Regions from separate parts of the Homo sapiens genome. Here region 2 is reported to be linked to region 1. Evidence: microRNA targets listed by miRTarBase, many of them from high-throughput screens and not tested one by one. Region 1 holds a microRNA gene; the other region holds the end of a gene's coding sequence.
What was found. The annotated mature microRNA hsa-miR-4492 reads GGGGCUGGGCGCGCGCC and lies in region 1 at 2,020-2,036, opposite strand. An mRNA with a match to its seed (bases 2 to 7 or 8) in the 3' UTR can be bound and repressed. Matches are read on the target gene's strand: a 7mer-m8 pairs with bases 2 to 8, a 7mer-A1 pairs with bases 2 to 7 and ends in A, and an 8mer does both.

Region 2: miRTarBase lists MAN2B2 as a target of hsa-miR-4492. Seed matches in the 3' UTR shown: 7mer-m8 at 5,668-5,674 and 7mer-m8 at 5,377-5,383.

The regions. Positions count from the first base shown.
Region 1 is chr11:118,905,688-118,912,800 of GRCh38, reverse strand. MIR4492 (microRNA 4492) reads right to left here and starts at 2,093; the gene lies at 2,014-2,093. It overlaps BCL9L (BCL9 like), which reads left to right. Exons shown (of 10, transcript NM_001378213.1): 3 at 2,786-2,887; 4 at 4,146-4,531; 5 at 5,199-5,318. The coding sequence starts at 2,862. RefSeq lists enhancers at 1-291, 292-833, 1-1,108, 1,376-1,915, 2,999-3,540 and 1 more.
Region 2 is chr4:6,620,069-6,627,181 of GRCh38, reverse strand. MAN2B2 (mannosidase alpha class 2B member 2) reads right to left here. Exons shown (of 19, transcript NM_015274.3): 19 at 3,820-5,994. The coding sequence ends at 5,897. Among named protein-coding and RNA genes, the nearest start is that of MRFAP1, 17 kb to the left of the region's middle. RefSeq lists a silencer at 4,539-4,732.

The DNA.
Region 1 (7,113 bases):
GAACCCTCCAAAACATTTCCTCACTGCCTCTTTGGGGTGGTTTTGAGCTAGGCAGTGACACTGCTGGGCCAGCTGGTGAGCCAAGCAGAGGCTCCCAACGTGGGGGCAGCTAGGAGCAGGCAGGTTGCCACTGGATGTGTGAACGCCTGCCCTACCTGTGGTAGTTGTGTGTGGAGCAGAGCCGGTGTGTCATACCTGGAGGCTCTGGGCATCTGAGCCTTCCTCAGCTCCCTCCCCCAGCTAGGATCAAGTCCACTTTAACCCTTAGCAACCCTTAGGCTGCTAGCTCCTACCCTCGCGTCACTCGGGGTGGGGGAGCGGATGGATATCTCAGGCCCTTTGTCAAGCCGCCTCTTCCGCTCCTCCGATTCATTCTCCTGGTATGCGCCTGGCCTTCCACTCAGGTGACTCGCACCTGCTCCCTGTTTGTGAGCTTGCTACCCCTCCCCACCTAACCCCCTAAGAGGGAGGCACGGTGACGTGTTCCCAGAGCCCCATCCCTTTGCTTTCTCGTACCTCAAGGGCCCCTGGCCTGGTACTAGCAAGCCCCCTTCACTGGGTGCTTTAAAATTGCATTGGGCTGGGATCAGCCCTCTTGGCTTCCCATCACCAGGCCTTCCAGGTGTCTTCGGAGACTGTGAGTGTGTGGAGGAGGAGGGGTCTTCGGGAGCTGGGGCAGACTCTTGAGGGGCAAAGGGGGGAGGTGTGAGATGGGAAAGTCCTGACTCATCCACGCTTGACTCAGCTCGCCCTGCGGCGGGGTGGGAGAGAGGGGGTGGAGTCCCGGAGGGGAGGGTGACTGGAAGAGTCTTCTGGGGAGGAGCCTAGGCCTGAACGGCCACTGGAGAGGACTGATTTTCTAATAGCCCCTTCCCAAATTCTTACAGGTTCTCAATTTTTGAGGCTGTGAACATAGGTAGTGAGTGGCCCTTGCCCTGCCCCTCCCCCCTTATGGGGGACCTGGGCACTGTGGCTGGAATGTGGGAAGCCCAACTATCTGATGCAGGCTCAGAGGAGCAGTCATGGCTGGCGTGGGGAGGTGGGGTCACTGCAGTGTCTGGAATGAGGGTCCGTCCCCACACTGCCACATACTGGATATGTGACTCAAGGTCACGCCACTTCCTTTTCCCAGACCTCAGTTTCCTCGTTGAAATGGGGTCGATCCTTTTGAGAATCAGCGAGCTGGTGAAGGGAGAGCCTGAGATGCATGCCAGCCAGGAGCCTGCTCAGAGCCCTGGTATCTCAGTGACTCCAGCCTCTGCCTCTGCTCTTCCCTGGTTGTGATGGAGAAGCTGGGGGTGGCGGGCTGCTTCCCAGGCAGGTCCTGGACTTTGGAACCTTCCCCCAGGAGCCTTCCTCCCCAGAGACACGGCTGGAGTGGCGAAGGCCAATGTGCCCTAGGGTTAAGTTGGGGTTAGACTCCCGCAGGGTGGCAGGTGGGGCCCCCTCACCCCCAGGTCCCCGCCCAGCCTCCAGCAGCCCCGCAGGGAGCATCAGGAGTGTGCACCGGTGTCTGGCCGGGCCTGTCACCGGGACGAAGCTCCTGGGCCCAAGACTCCTCCCCTTTGACCGGGATCGGCTGCTGGAGGGCTGCTGGAGGGCGGGTAGGGGAGGCGAGGGGGGAGCCAGGGCTGGGGGCGGTTGGGTGAGGCCTCTGTGTTTGTGTAAGTCTGTTGCTGTATCTATGGCCCTGTGCGTGTTTCTTTGTGACTACCAGGCTCAACTTTCTTCGGCTCTCTTGTGGCCGGCCTCAGTCTTTTCATCTGTTCAATGGGTCCGGCGCTCCCACTCAGCCCTCGGGCAGCCCCGGTGTCTGCGCGTGCCCCAGGCTGTCTCCGCGCCTCCCGCTCCGGCGGCGCTTCCCTGGCCTCGGCGCGCCTCTAGCTTCCTGGGCTCCGTGCGTGTCTTGTCTCCCTGTCCACGTGTGAGCTGTGAGTGTGTGTGAGTCAGAGTTCGGGTGTCTGTGGGTCTCTGAGCCTCTGCTGGCAGCACCCGGGGCTCGCCAAGCTCTTGCCGGCTGGCGCGCGCCCAGCCCCTGGCGGGACTTGTCCGTGTGTCTGTCCGCGCGCGGGGCCTGGAGAAGCACGCTGCAGTCCTGTCCGCCTCCCGCTCGCTGCCTCGCTGGCTGTCGCTCGCTCGCTCTGCCTCTCCGCCCGGGCTCTGCCGAAGGGGGCGGGGTGGGGGTGCAGGGCGGGGGGAGGGGAGGCTCCTGCATTCTTGCGGTCGGGGAGGAATCCGAGCCAGCGTTACTGGTCTCCAGAAGAGCCCAGCTGCAGCCCCGGGGCCCCGCCAGGCCTCTCGCTGCCCGCCCGGGCCTGCTGGGATGGGCACGGGCTAGGCCTCGAGCTGGGGACGGGGCGGGGCGTGGCCCCAACCCCGGGCCCCCTCCACGGCTGGAGCGCTCTGGGGGTGGGGCACGAGGGGTACCCCACCCTGGGTGAGGGGCGCGTCTGGGAGCAGGAATCCCTCAGGGGGCCAGGGGAGACCTCACAGCCGCCCCACACGGCACCTTTGCTACCTAGCCTTTTAGTGAATTCTGTCTCTGCCGCCCGTCGGGGCGGAGGCTTGCTGGAGACTGCAAGCCCCCTGAGGGCAAGGTGCGGGAGGGATGGGGACAGGGCTGGCCTCCAGGATCGAGACCCCATCTCGTAATCCTCTTTTTCCAGTGCCACCCCACCCTATCCAGCTCCCTAGTCCCAGGGCTGTTGGGTCCTCCCTTCTCCCCTCCCCCTCTGACACCCCCTCCCCAAGTCACGAGTTTTCTCTTTGGGGCTTGTTGCTGCAGTCCGTGCTCCAGTACCGAGTACCTGGCTGGGCCCTGGGCACGCACAGGGGCCGTAGCCCCACTGTGTGTGGGAGCCATGAGGATCCTGGCTAACAAGACAAGGTGTGTGGGTGTCGTGGCGGGTGGGATGTGTGTGTGTGGAGTGCGGGAAGGGAAGGGCCCAGTGGTGATGGGGCCCAAGCTGTGCTGGCCAGGAGAGGAGCCGCCCTGGGCACCTGGCTCCCAGGCCACCAGTGGGCTAAAGGGGGGTTAGCATGGGAAGGCCTGGCCCGAGGCAGGAGGCGCAGCCAGCCTTAGTGCCTGGGCCTGGGTGGGGGGCAGAGGGGACTGGCAGCCAGCTATGCTTGCGGCTTCTGGTCCCTTCTAGTTCTTCCCTCCTTAAAATGGTTTGAGCAGACCCCCTCCCACCCTACTGTGGGGTCCGAAGGCCGCCTCTGGCCTCAGTCTAGCTGGAGGTGGGAGCTGGAGTAGGGGGCGGTGCCTGCCTCCCTCCCCCCTCCCCGGAGAAGCCGGCAGACAGGGCCAGGCGGCAGCAGCAGGACAGCAGAGCTGAAATAAATCTGAGCTGGTGTGGAATGAGGGGGGATAAATATCCTCTCCCGTGATGTGATCTTTCCAGCGGCTATTAATAGGTCTCCGGGGAGGGGGAGGCGGCGGGGGGAGCGGGCTGGAGCTTAAAGGGCCCGCAGCCTAGGCTGCAGGAATCCTTGGCTTCAAGCTACACTCCCCATCTGCTTGACACACCGCTCCCCTCCCCCTTTCCTCCTGCTTCTGCCTGCCGGCCTGGCCTGCCAAGCCCCCCTCCTCAGGCCTTCCCCTCCAGCTGTCTGGACCAGTGGGTAGCACTCCCTGGTGTGCGTTTTCCCACTGTCCCTGGGGAATGAGACCCGGGCATGTGCAGTGACCCCAGGTCCTGTGGCCCTTCTCTGCTGGTGTTGGGACATATGGGAGTTGAGGTTTGAGACCTTGGAAGGAGTCTGAAGACAGCAGATCTTAGAAGAGAGGATGCTTAAGTCTGATACAGAGGACAGGGTTGCCACAGAAGCTTGCAGGCTGATGGGTGTTTTGGGGCTGAGGTGGGTGAATTCTGCCAACTCTAGGCCCTGGTTTCCATTCAAATTGTGGAGGCTAGGGGGTGGAGGGTTTCCCCATCTCCACTCCCCAAGGTGGATGAGGGCTTCAGCCCTTGTCTGAGGAAGCCATGGAGGGAGGTAGAGAATAGCTGGTGGTGGTCTTGAGATACCACCCCTTCCCCCCACCCTCCCCCATTGTTAGGGGAGGCAGGATGGGGTAATTAAGTTGCAGGCATGCCTAGCCCCTAGCAAGGTTAACTTTTCACATTTCTCCCACCTCCTCCCAGGTTACCCCACCCCAGGAGGAGAGAAGCTCCAGGGAGCCCGCCGCTGTCCCCCCGCGGTCATTGCCCCCCTGCCCCAGCCAAGCCAATGCACCCAGAAAATAAATTGACCAATCATGGCAAGACAGGGAATGGCGGGGCCCAATCTCAGCACCAGAATGTGAACCAAGGACCCACCTGCAACGTGGGCTCGAAGGGCGTGGGGGCGGGGAACCATGGGGCCAAGGCCAACCAGATCTCGCCTAGCAACTCAAGTCTGAAGAACCCCCAGGCAGGGGTGCCCCCTTTCAGCTCGCTCAAGGGCAAGGTGAAGAGGGACCGGAGTGTGTCTGTGGACTCTGGAGAGCAGCGAGAGGCTGGGACCCCATCCCTGGATTCAGAGGCCAAAGGTACCCCATTTCCTCATCCCTAAGACCCTAGCATCTCCCATAGTCCAAGGCTCAGATGTTCTGGGAGATCACCTCTCTGCTCCCTGCTTGTCCAGTCCTCATCCCACGTTCTTCTCCAGTATTTCTGCATGGGTACCTTTCAACACCCACCAACCAGATCATTCGGGATTGGGGTTGGCCATGATGCCACCCATGGAGGGGCCACACAGAGTGGTCGGACTTCTGGACTCCTTCCCCTCCTGCTTTCCCACCAGAGCTCCAGAAGGGGAGAGGGAGGTGCCATGGAGTGAGGAGCAGACCCCAGACCCACACACTTCCAGGAGCCTCCGTATCCCGGCTGGTGGGAGCCCTTTGGGAGCAGGCACTGGGGCCTGGAAGAGTAGCAGCAGCTCCCCCTCCCCTCCAGCCCTAATTAGAACCAGTTGTGGTTGGGGATTATGCTGTACTTGGTGTTGGGGGGGAGGGGAGACAGGCATGGGGCTATAGAGAGAAATCAGAAACAAATGGTGGCGTGGTGGGGGCCACGGGCTGGCGAAGTGCCCACCATGGCCTGGGCAGTGCCCTCTAGGGTGGGGCATCTTAGAGAATGGATCTGGGAGGGACCCTGGGTGTGGGAGAATAATGGGGCCTCTAGGCACTCACTCTTTCCTCCGTCCTGCCTGGGCAGAGGTGGCGCCGCGGAGTAAGCGGCGCTGTGTGCTGGAGCGGAAGCAGCCGTACAGTGGGGACGAATGGTGCTCTGGACCGGACAGTGAGGAGGACGACAAGCCCATTGGGGCCACCCACAGTGAGTGCCTGTCGATGCCAGGGTGCTGTAGCCCGTGATGTTCCTGGGGGATGGACTTGAGAGGACTGAGCCTGGGAAAGAAGTGAGGACTGGGAGTCCTGGATTTTTCTCTCCCATCCTACCTCTCAGACTCTGTCCCTCCCTACACTGCAACTGCCTCGCCTCTGCCTTCCAGGTGCTCAGTGACCCCCTCTCCCTAGGGACCCTAGGTGGGGCAGAGTGGAGTGGCCTCCTTCTTGGTCACGTCACCTGCACCTCTACCTGTGAATTCCTGGCCTATGCTGCCACCTACTGGTTAGTGGAGGGAGGGCGGTGAAGCGTCCAGGGACACTGGGAGCCGGGCAGTTGGCTCTGCTGTGCAAAGCCCTGCTAAGCCTGGGTGTGAGTTGCCACTTGGCCGTGTCTCTAGTGCCCTTCCCTAACCTCTAATTGACTCCTGGCAAGTACCCAGGGTGTGTCACCAGGACAAGAAGTGGGTGTGGAGGGATGCCCACTCCTCCTCTGATTCTTTTATGGATTCGCCTATATCTTGTCCTTCCATGAGTGATGGGGGAGAGCCAGATGTAACCCCTGCCCCTGGGAAGCTTGTACATATTTTTTTTCCCTCAAAGTTTACGTTTACATCTTTTTGAGGAGAGAGACATAAGAAACTAGCCAGAGAGGCTGGGTGTGGTGGCTGTCACCTGTAATCCCCAGAATTTGGGGAGCTGAAACCGGAGAATTGCTTGAGCCCAGGAGTTCAAGAACAGCCTGGCCAACATAGGGAGACCCCATCTCTAAAAAGAGAGAGAGAGAGAAAGAAAGGAAAGAAGTAAAGAAAGAAGAAAAAGAAACTAGCCAGAGACTATTAAATTGTGAACTCCTTGAAGGCAGGGACCATAGAAAGAAGAAAGAAAAGAGTACATTGGCTACTTTGCTACTCTGTTTTATTTAATCCTTACAACAGCCCTGTGAGGTCAGTGTTATCATGATGCCAATTACAGAGGAGGAGAGAGAGTCAGCAAATGTTATGGAGTGAGCAGACTATGTCTGTGACAGGGGTGTAGAGGGTCAAATACCAAACCTCTACAGCTAGCTGGAACCTCACAGACCATCCTGTATCAGTTCTCTCTCCCCCGTGGGACTAACCTGGTGGTCGCCAAGCCTCTGGCTGAACCCTTTGATGATAGAAGCCTTTACTGCTTCCCAGACCAGACACCTCCCCCCATAGCCACCACCTCCAGTTCACTTATGTCACATCAGACTGCACCATTGTAGAAACTTTGTGAGTTTTATTTATTTATTGTTTAGAGACAGGGTCTCTCTCTGACACCCAGGCTGGAGTGCAGTGGTGTGATCACAGCTCACTGCAACCTCAAACTCCTGAGCTCAAGTGATCCTCCCATCTCAGACTCCCAAGTAGCTGGGGCTCAGGCATGTATCACACCTGGCTAATTTTTGTAGAGACAGTCTTGCCATGTTGCCCAGGCTGATCTTGAACTCCTGGTCTCAAGCGATCCTCATGCCTTGGCCTCCCAAAGTGCTGGAATTACAGGAGTGAGCCACTGTGCCTGGCAAACATAGGGAAATACAAAGTAGAAATTGCTAACATCCCATACTCAAGGCGACTATTTTAGTCGTACTACCCTTAGATTCTTTTATTTATTTATTTATTTATTTATTTTTGAATCGGAGTTTCACTCTTGTTGCCCAGGCTGGAGTGCAATGGCACGAACTCGGCTTACTGCAACCTCTGCCTCCTGAGTTCAAGCGATTTTCCTGCCTCAGCCTCCCGAGTAGCTGGGATTACAGGCAC
Region 2 (7,113 bases), not on the chromosome of region 1:
AGTTTCTTAAGTTTGCTCCTTCTGTTTACTCTCACATTAGAAGTCTGAGAGAGTTTCCATGATTGTCCACTAAAAAATTGCCCATATTTTTAATCTTTTAAATAGAAAACACGGCAGATGTGAAACAGTGTCTTATTGTGGTTTTCATTTGCACAGACCTGAATGCTAAGGAGGCTGACCATCTTTTCACGCCTGTATTGACCGCTGGGGTTTCAGCTGGGGGCTGTCTGCGTACGATGCGAGGGAGGGTGAAGTTTCTTTTTGTTCCAAGTGAGGGGGAGTTGTCACAGCACCTCTGCCATGCAACATTCTTCCTCACCATGTGGCACCCCATCTCGCTCTTTTTTTTTTTTGAGACCGAGTTTCGCTCTTGTTGCCCAGGCTAGAGTGCAGTGGCGCGATCTTGGCTCATCGCAACCTCCGCCTCCCGGGTTCAAGCGATTCTCCTGCCTCAGCCTTCCTGAGTAGCTAGGATTACAGGCATGCACCACCACACCTGGCTAATTTTGTATTTTTAGTAGAGACGGGGTTTCTCCGTGTTGGTCAGGCTAGTCCCGAACTCCCGACCTCAGATGATCCACCCGCTTCGACCTCCCAAAGTGCTGGGATTACAGGCGTGAGCCACCGCGCCCGGCCCCATCTCTCTTCTATCAGCTTCCGTGTGCGCGGTCCAGCTTCTGAGCTCTTTGTTTGCTCTGGTCTGAATGTTTTTGTCCCCCTAAATTCATATACCGAACCCTAATCCCCCAGTTGATGGTATTAGGAGGTGGGGATGTTGGGAGGTGATTAGGTTATGGGGATTAGTGTAACTGAACTCGGGTTCAGGCCACTCACTCGCCGACATTCGAGAGACAAGTTTTGGTAAAAGGAAAGGTAGCTTTATTCGAGAAGCCAGCAGCTTGGGAGGTGGGGGCAGGGGCACTGAACTCTTGTGTTCAAAGATCACCTCTCCAAGTTGTGTCTCCAGATGCACGTTTTTAAGGGAAATCTGGGGAAGTGCGAATGATGATCAAAGCATTCTTGTGGAACAGCAGCTATGTGCGCAGTCTCAGGCAGGTAGTTACGATTGCTGTCTTGCGGGGATGTCATGTGACCTTTTGCAAGTGCAGCTATTTTTTTTTTTTTTTTTTTTTTTTTTTTTTTTGGAACAGGGTTTCATTCTGTTGCCCAGGCTGGAGTGCAGTAGCATGATCACGGCTTACTGTAGCCTTGACCTCCCCAGGTTCAGGTGATCCTCCCACCTCACCCTCTACAGTAGCTGGGACTAAAGGCACGCACCATCACACCTGGCTAATTTTAAAATTTTTTTTAGAGATTGGGTTTTACCAAGTTGCCCAGGCTGGTCTCCAACTCCTGGGCTCAAATGATCTCTCCCCCTCAGCCTCCCAAAGTGCTGGCTGCACCAGGCCAGCCAGATTAGTCTTAGTTTTGCTTTTTTTTTGGACAGTCTCACTCTGTTGCCCAGGCATGGCTCATTGCAGCCTTGACTTCACTGGCTCAGGGGATCCTTCCACCTCAGCCTCCTGAGTAGCTGGGACTACAGGCGTGTGCCACACCTACTTAAATTTTGTTACTATTTATAGAGACGGGGTCTCCCTATTTTGCCCAGGCTGGTCTCAAACTTTTGGACTTACGTGATCCTCCTGCCTCGACCTCAGCCCAACTATTCTCATCTGGTGGGTGGAAACCTGCGGCTAGCCGCTTCCAGGATTGCTGGTCAGTGCACTTCTCTCTTATCTCTGCTGAAGGTCCTCTTTCCCTGAGGCTGTTTTTAATGAATAGTGTGTAAGCGTAAGCAAAGCTGTAATTATACTCAAGCAAACACAATTTTTCTTTAAGGTAGACTCAGTACTGTTATATTAGCACCCTCCTAGAAACCGAGCCCAGAGAGCTGCCTTGCCCCTTCTGCCATGTGAGGACGGAGCAAGACGGCACCATCTATAGACCAGGAAACAGCCCCTCCCCAGACACCGAATCTGCTGGCACCTTGGACTCCCAGCATCCAGAATTGGGAGAAATAAATTCCTGTTGTTGATAAGCCACTCAGTGTATGGTATTCTTTTTTTTTTTTGAGACGGAGTCTCGCTCTGTCACCCAGGCTGGAGTGCAGTGGCACAATCTCGGTTCACTGCAAGCTCCGCCTCCCGGGTTCCCGCCATTCTTCTGCCTCAGCCTCCCGAGTAGCTGGGACTACAGGCCGCCCGCCACCACGCCCGGCTAATTTTTTGTATTTTTAGTAGAGACGGGGTTTCACTGTGGTCTCGATCTCCTGACCTTGTGATCCGCCCACCTTGGCCTCCCAAAGTGTACGGGATTCTATGACAGCAGCCCAAACGGACGAAGATGTGCACTTGTGTGTGTGTGTGTGTGTGTGTTTTTTTTTTTTTGAGACAGAGTTTCGCTCTTGTCGCCCAGGCTGGAGCGCAGTGGCACGATCTCGGCTCACCGCAATCTCCGCCTTCTGGGTTCAAGAGATTCTCCTGCCTCAGCCTCCCGGGTAGCTGGGATTACAGGTGCCCACCACCATGCCCGGCTAATTTTGTATGTTTAGTAGAGACGGGGTTTCTCCATGTTGGTCAGGCTGGTCTCGAACTCCTGACCTTAGGTGATCAGCCCGCCTCGGCCTCCCAAAGTGCTGGGATTACAGTCGTCTGCCACTAAGCCTGGCTAATTTTTGTATTTTTTTAGAGAGGGGGTTTCACTATGTTGGCCAGCCTGGTCTCGAACTCCTGGCCTCTAGTGATCCACCCACCTTGGCCTCCCAAAGTGCTGGGATTACAGGCACGAACCACTGTACCTAGCCCCAGTGCACTTCAGAATCATCCTGTCAAGTTCCGCAATAAACCTGTTGGGGATTGTCAGTGAGCAACGTAGTTTATTGGGAGTTTGGTGGTGGTGGTTTGTAAAAAAAAAAAAAAAAAAAAAAAAAAAACAAACAACAACAACAAAAAACAGGCCATTCACAGTGGCTTGAGCCTGTAATCCCAGCACTTTGGGAGGCCTAGGTGGGAGGATCGCTTGAGCTCAGGAGTTCAAGACCAGCTTGGGCAACATAGTGAGACTGCGTCTCCACAAACATTTTAAAAATTAGTTGGGTGTAGTGACTCATGCTTGTAGTCCCAGCTACTCAGGAGGGTGGGATGGGAGGACTACTTGAGCCCAGGAGTTAAGAGGTTCCAGTGAGCTATGATAGTGCCACTGCACTCCCACCTGGGTGACAGAGCGAGACCCTGTGTCTAAAAAAGTAAAATGAAATGAAATAACAACAAAGCAACAAATGGATGTTAGATTTTAGCCAATATTCTGTCTATTGTGGGTGGGTTTTCCCCTGTCATCTATATTCTTCTCACTCTTCCCAGTTGAGGGTGCTGGGTGCTGGAGGGACCGCAGGGGGAAGTGGCTCTCTTGCTGTTTCTGTTCTGGACGGGGATGGTCAGCATGGGTGATGGTACTTTCAGTGCACATGATTTTTCTACAGCCTGGCTGCGCTGGGGATAACATTTCCATAGTCTTCTTTATTTTTTTCTGAGACAGGGTCTTGCTCTATTACCCCGGTTGGAGTTAGTGGCATGATCATGGCTCACTGAAGCCTCGACCTCCTGGGCTCAAGTGAGCCTCCCACCTCAGCCCCCAGAGTAGCTGGGACCACTGGTGCACACCACCACGCTCGTCTAAAGAATAGTTTTTGTAGAGATGGGGTCTCACTATATTGCCGAGGCTGGTCTGGAACACCTGGGCTCAAGCGATCCTTCTGCCTAGGGCTCCCAGCGTGTTGGAATTTCAGGCATGAACCACCACGCCTGGCCTCCGTAGTCTTCCTTTTTTTTTTTTTTTTGAGACGGAGTCTCACTCTTGTCACCCAGGCTGGAGTGCAGAGGCGGAGGTCTCCTCCGCCTCCCAGGTTCAAGTGATTGATTCTCCTGCCTCAGCCTCCCGAGTAGCTGGGACTACAGGCGCACACCACCACACCCGGTTAACTTTGTATTTTTAGTAGAGATGGGGTTTCACCATGTTGGCCAGCCTGGTCTTGAACTACTGACCACCAGTGATCCGGTTGCTTTGGCCTCCCAAAGTGCTGGGATTAAGGCATGAACCACTGCCCAGCCTCCATAGTCTTCTTGACACAGAAACCAAGCCTCATGCAGCCCACATGCTCTAAAGGGCTCCTGCCTCACTCCTTGTGCCTCAACCTCCCACTGCACATCCATGCCTCTGGTGGCTGCTCACCTGACCCCACCTCACAGGGGTGGCCTATTGCTTGGTCAGCAACTCCAGCCCAGCTCCTGCCTGGCCAAACCAGAGACTGTCTTTGCTGTCTGGTGGCCAAACTGCACGTTGTCCAGAGGTCTGACTCCTTCCAAGCTGGTCCTTTCTGGGTACTTTCCTTCAGCCCTAGAGTACCAAATAATTTCCTACATCTTACAGTTTACTCTTTAAAACGGTTTAGGCCGGGCACATTGGCTCACGCCTGTAATCCTGGCACTTTGGGAGGCCGGGGCAGGCAGATCACCTGAGGTCAGGAGTTCCAGATCAGCCTGGCCAACATGGTGAATCCCCGTCTCTACTAAAAATACAAAAATTAGCTGACGCAGTGGTGCATCTCTAGTAGCAGCTACTCGGGAGGCAGAGGCTGGAGAATTGCTTGAACCCAGGAGGTGCAGGTCGCAGTGAGCTGAGATCTTGACACTGCACTCCAGCCTGGGCGACAGAGTGAGACTCTGTCTCGGGAAAAAAAAAAAAAAGTTTTAAAATTGAGATATAATTCACAGACCATAAAATTCATCTTCCAAAGTTTTTAATTCATTGGTTTCTAGTATATTCACAAAGTTGTGCAACCATCATTCCACAATTTCATCATCTTCCAAAGAAAGCCCGTCCCTGTTAGCTGTCATGCCTCTTCTCTCTTCCTCCAGTACCTGGCAACCACCAATGTGCTTTGTCTCTGATACACAGATTTGCCTATTCTGGACATTTCACATAAACTCGTGATTGGCTTCTTTCACTTAGCGTAATATTTGTAGGATTCACTCAGGCTGTGGCATGCGTCAGAATTTCCTTCCTTTTTATGGCCAAATAATATTCCATTGTATGGACAGAACACACTTCATGTCTTAATTCATCTGTGGATGGACATTTGGGTTGTTGCTACCGTTTGACTTTTGAGTAATGCTGCTATGAACGCGGGAGCACAGGTATTGTGTGGATGGATGTTTTCAATTCTCTTGGGCATAGACCTGGGAAGGTTATACTTTTATTGATATTAATAGTTCTGATATTGGACATCCCTGCTGTGTGGTTTCACCTCTCATGGACTCTGACGGCTGCTGTGCCTTCTCTGCTCGGCAGGCGGTGCCCTGAGGCACAGGTGGGCGTCTGGGGCTGGAACTCTCGCTAGGCGCTACAACTTCCTCTCCTGCCCTGTGGCAGAGCCAAGCCCCTTGCAGGGCTGTTGCCAGCATGGGATGAGTCTATGAAAACACGTGGCACGCAGTAGGTCCACAGTTACCACTGGCAGCCTGGCAAGCCTGGCAGGGCCCGGACGGCAGATGCGCTTCGGTGCTGCTGTGAGTCTTGTGCTCTGCCTTAGGCAGAAAGTCCTGGGTTTGTGTTTTGTGAATGAATGACGCATGAGTGTGCCAAATATCCTTTACGTGACAGAAGAGGAGAGGGCTGGCTTGATTGAGTGTGGGGGGGAAGAACCTGGATCTTGTAATGTAATTTTTGTTTAAAAAAATTAGGGAAAAACCCCAAATATGACCATTTCCTGCCATTAGCCTGCAGATGAGCAGCTGACTCCCCAGTCCCATCCCTCCGCACTGCTTTTCCCTGTCCTGGGTCTGTTCTGTTACATGGAGTTCCTGGGGGAAGCCCTGGGGCCGGGGCATCTGCCCAGGGCTCACTGCTGTTGAAAGTGAATAAAGAACGTCCGGATTTCCTTTGGGTGGACGGTGATGATGGGGCCTCCTGGTGGCCTCGAGGGAGAGGTGGTGTCACCTAGGGGAACAGAGGTGATCTGTCCAGTGTGGCCTGGGATGCCTCCTCCCAGCCTCCCTCTCACCCCCTGCACCTGTCTACAGTCTGCTGTGGCTCCCAGCCTCCCTCTCACCCTCCTGCACCTGTCTACAATCTGCTGTGGCTCCCAGCCTCCTTCTCACCACACTGCACCTGGCTACAGTCTGCTGTGGCTCCCACCGTGGCAACGGCCTATGGCATCCCCTTCTGCCAGGACTCCTGTGGGCCTCTTGGCGTTTCTGCCCACCCTGAGGGCAATTCATAGGTTGGTCCTGGCCCTAGTGGCCTCAATTCCTCATGGGTGTTGCCCTCAAAGCCCAAGAGCTTTCTGAGACCATCTGGTGAGTCTGCCCTTGCCTCACCAGGCTCCCCTGAAGGCATGCCCTGGGGTTGGGCTTCGATCTTGGGAGGGAGCCGTCCACTTATCTATCACTCATCCATCTTCCTTCCTTCTTTCCAACCAACATCATCTTCCCTCCCTCCCTCCCTCCGTCCCTTCCTTCCTCCCACCACCAACTGAGCGTGCACCATGCACCCGCCACCATGCTGTGTGTAGTGGACAACGAGCTGCACAGGACAGAAGAAACCCCTGGGGCCAGGAGAGTGGAGGAGGCACTTGGCCTGGTTGGTGACTCTGGGGAGGCATCCTGGGGAGCTTGAGCAGGTGCTGGCCAGAGTGAATGGGACCTGTGCGTCCCAGGCAGAGGGCATGGTGCGGACAGGGAGTGGAGCCTGGAAGCTGCCTGTAGTGCAGGAGCTCACGGTGGCACATGTCGTATGAGGCAGGGACCGGCTGATGGGCTGAGGTCAGCAGGGCCAAGGTGGGCAGAAGCCCCTGGGCCCCTAGCTGTCACCCAGGGCACAGGCAGGGCGTGTGGTCTGCGTGTGCACACGTACAAGTGCACACACACGCCTGTGTGGAGCCCTGGCAGGCAGAGACTAACCCAAAGCCTTTCTTAACCGACTGTAGTAGATTTGGGAGGGCTGCGGGTTCAGAGTAGGAAAGCAGCCTCGCAAGGTCGCACAGGCCGGGACAGGCAGATGGTTGGATGTGCACCGGGTCTGACCAGCTGCTGAGCCTGGCTGGGAGTCCTGGGTAGG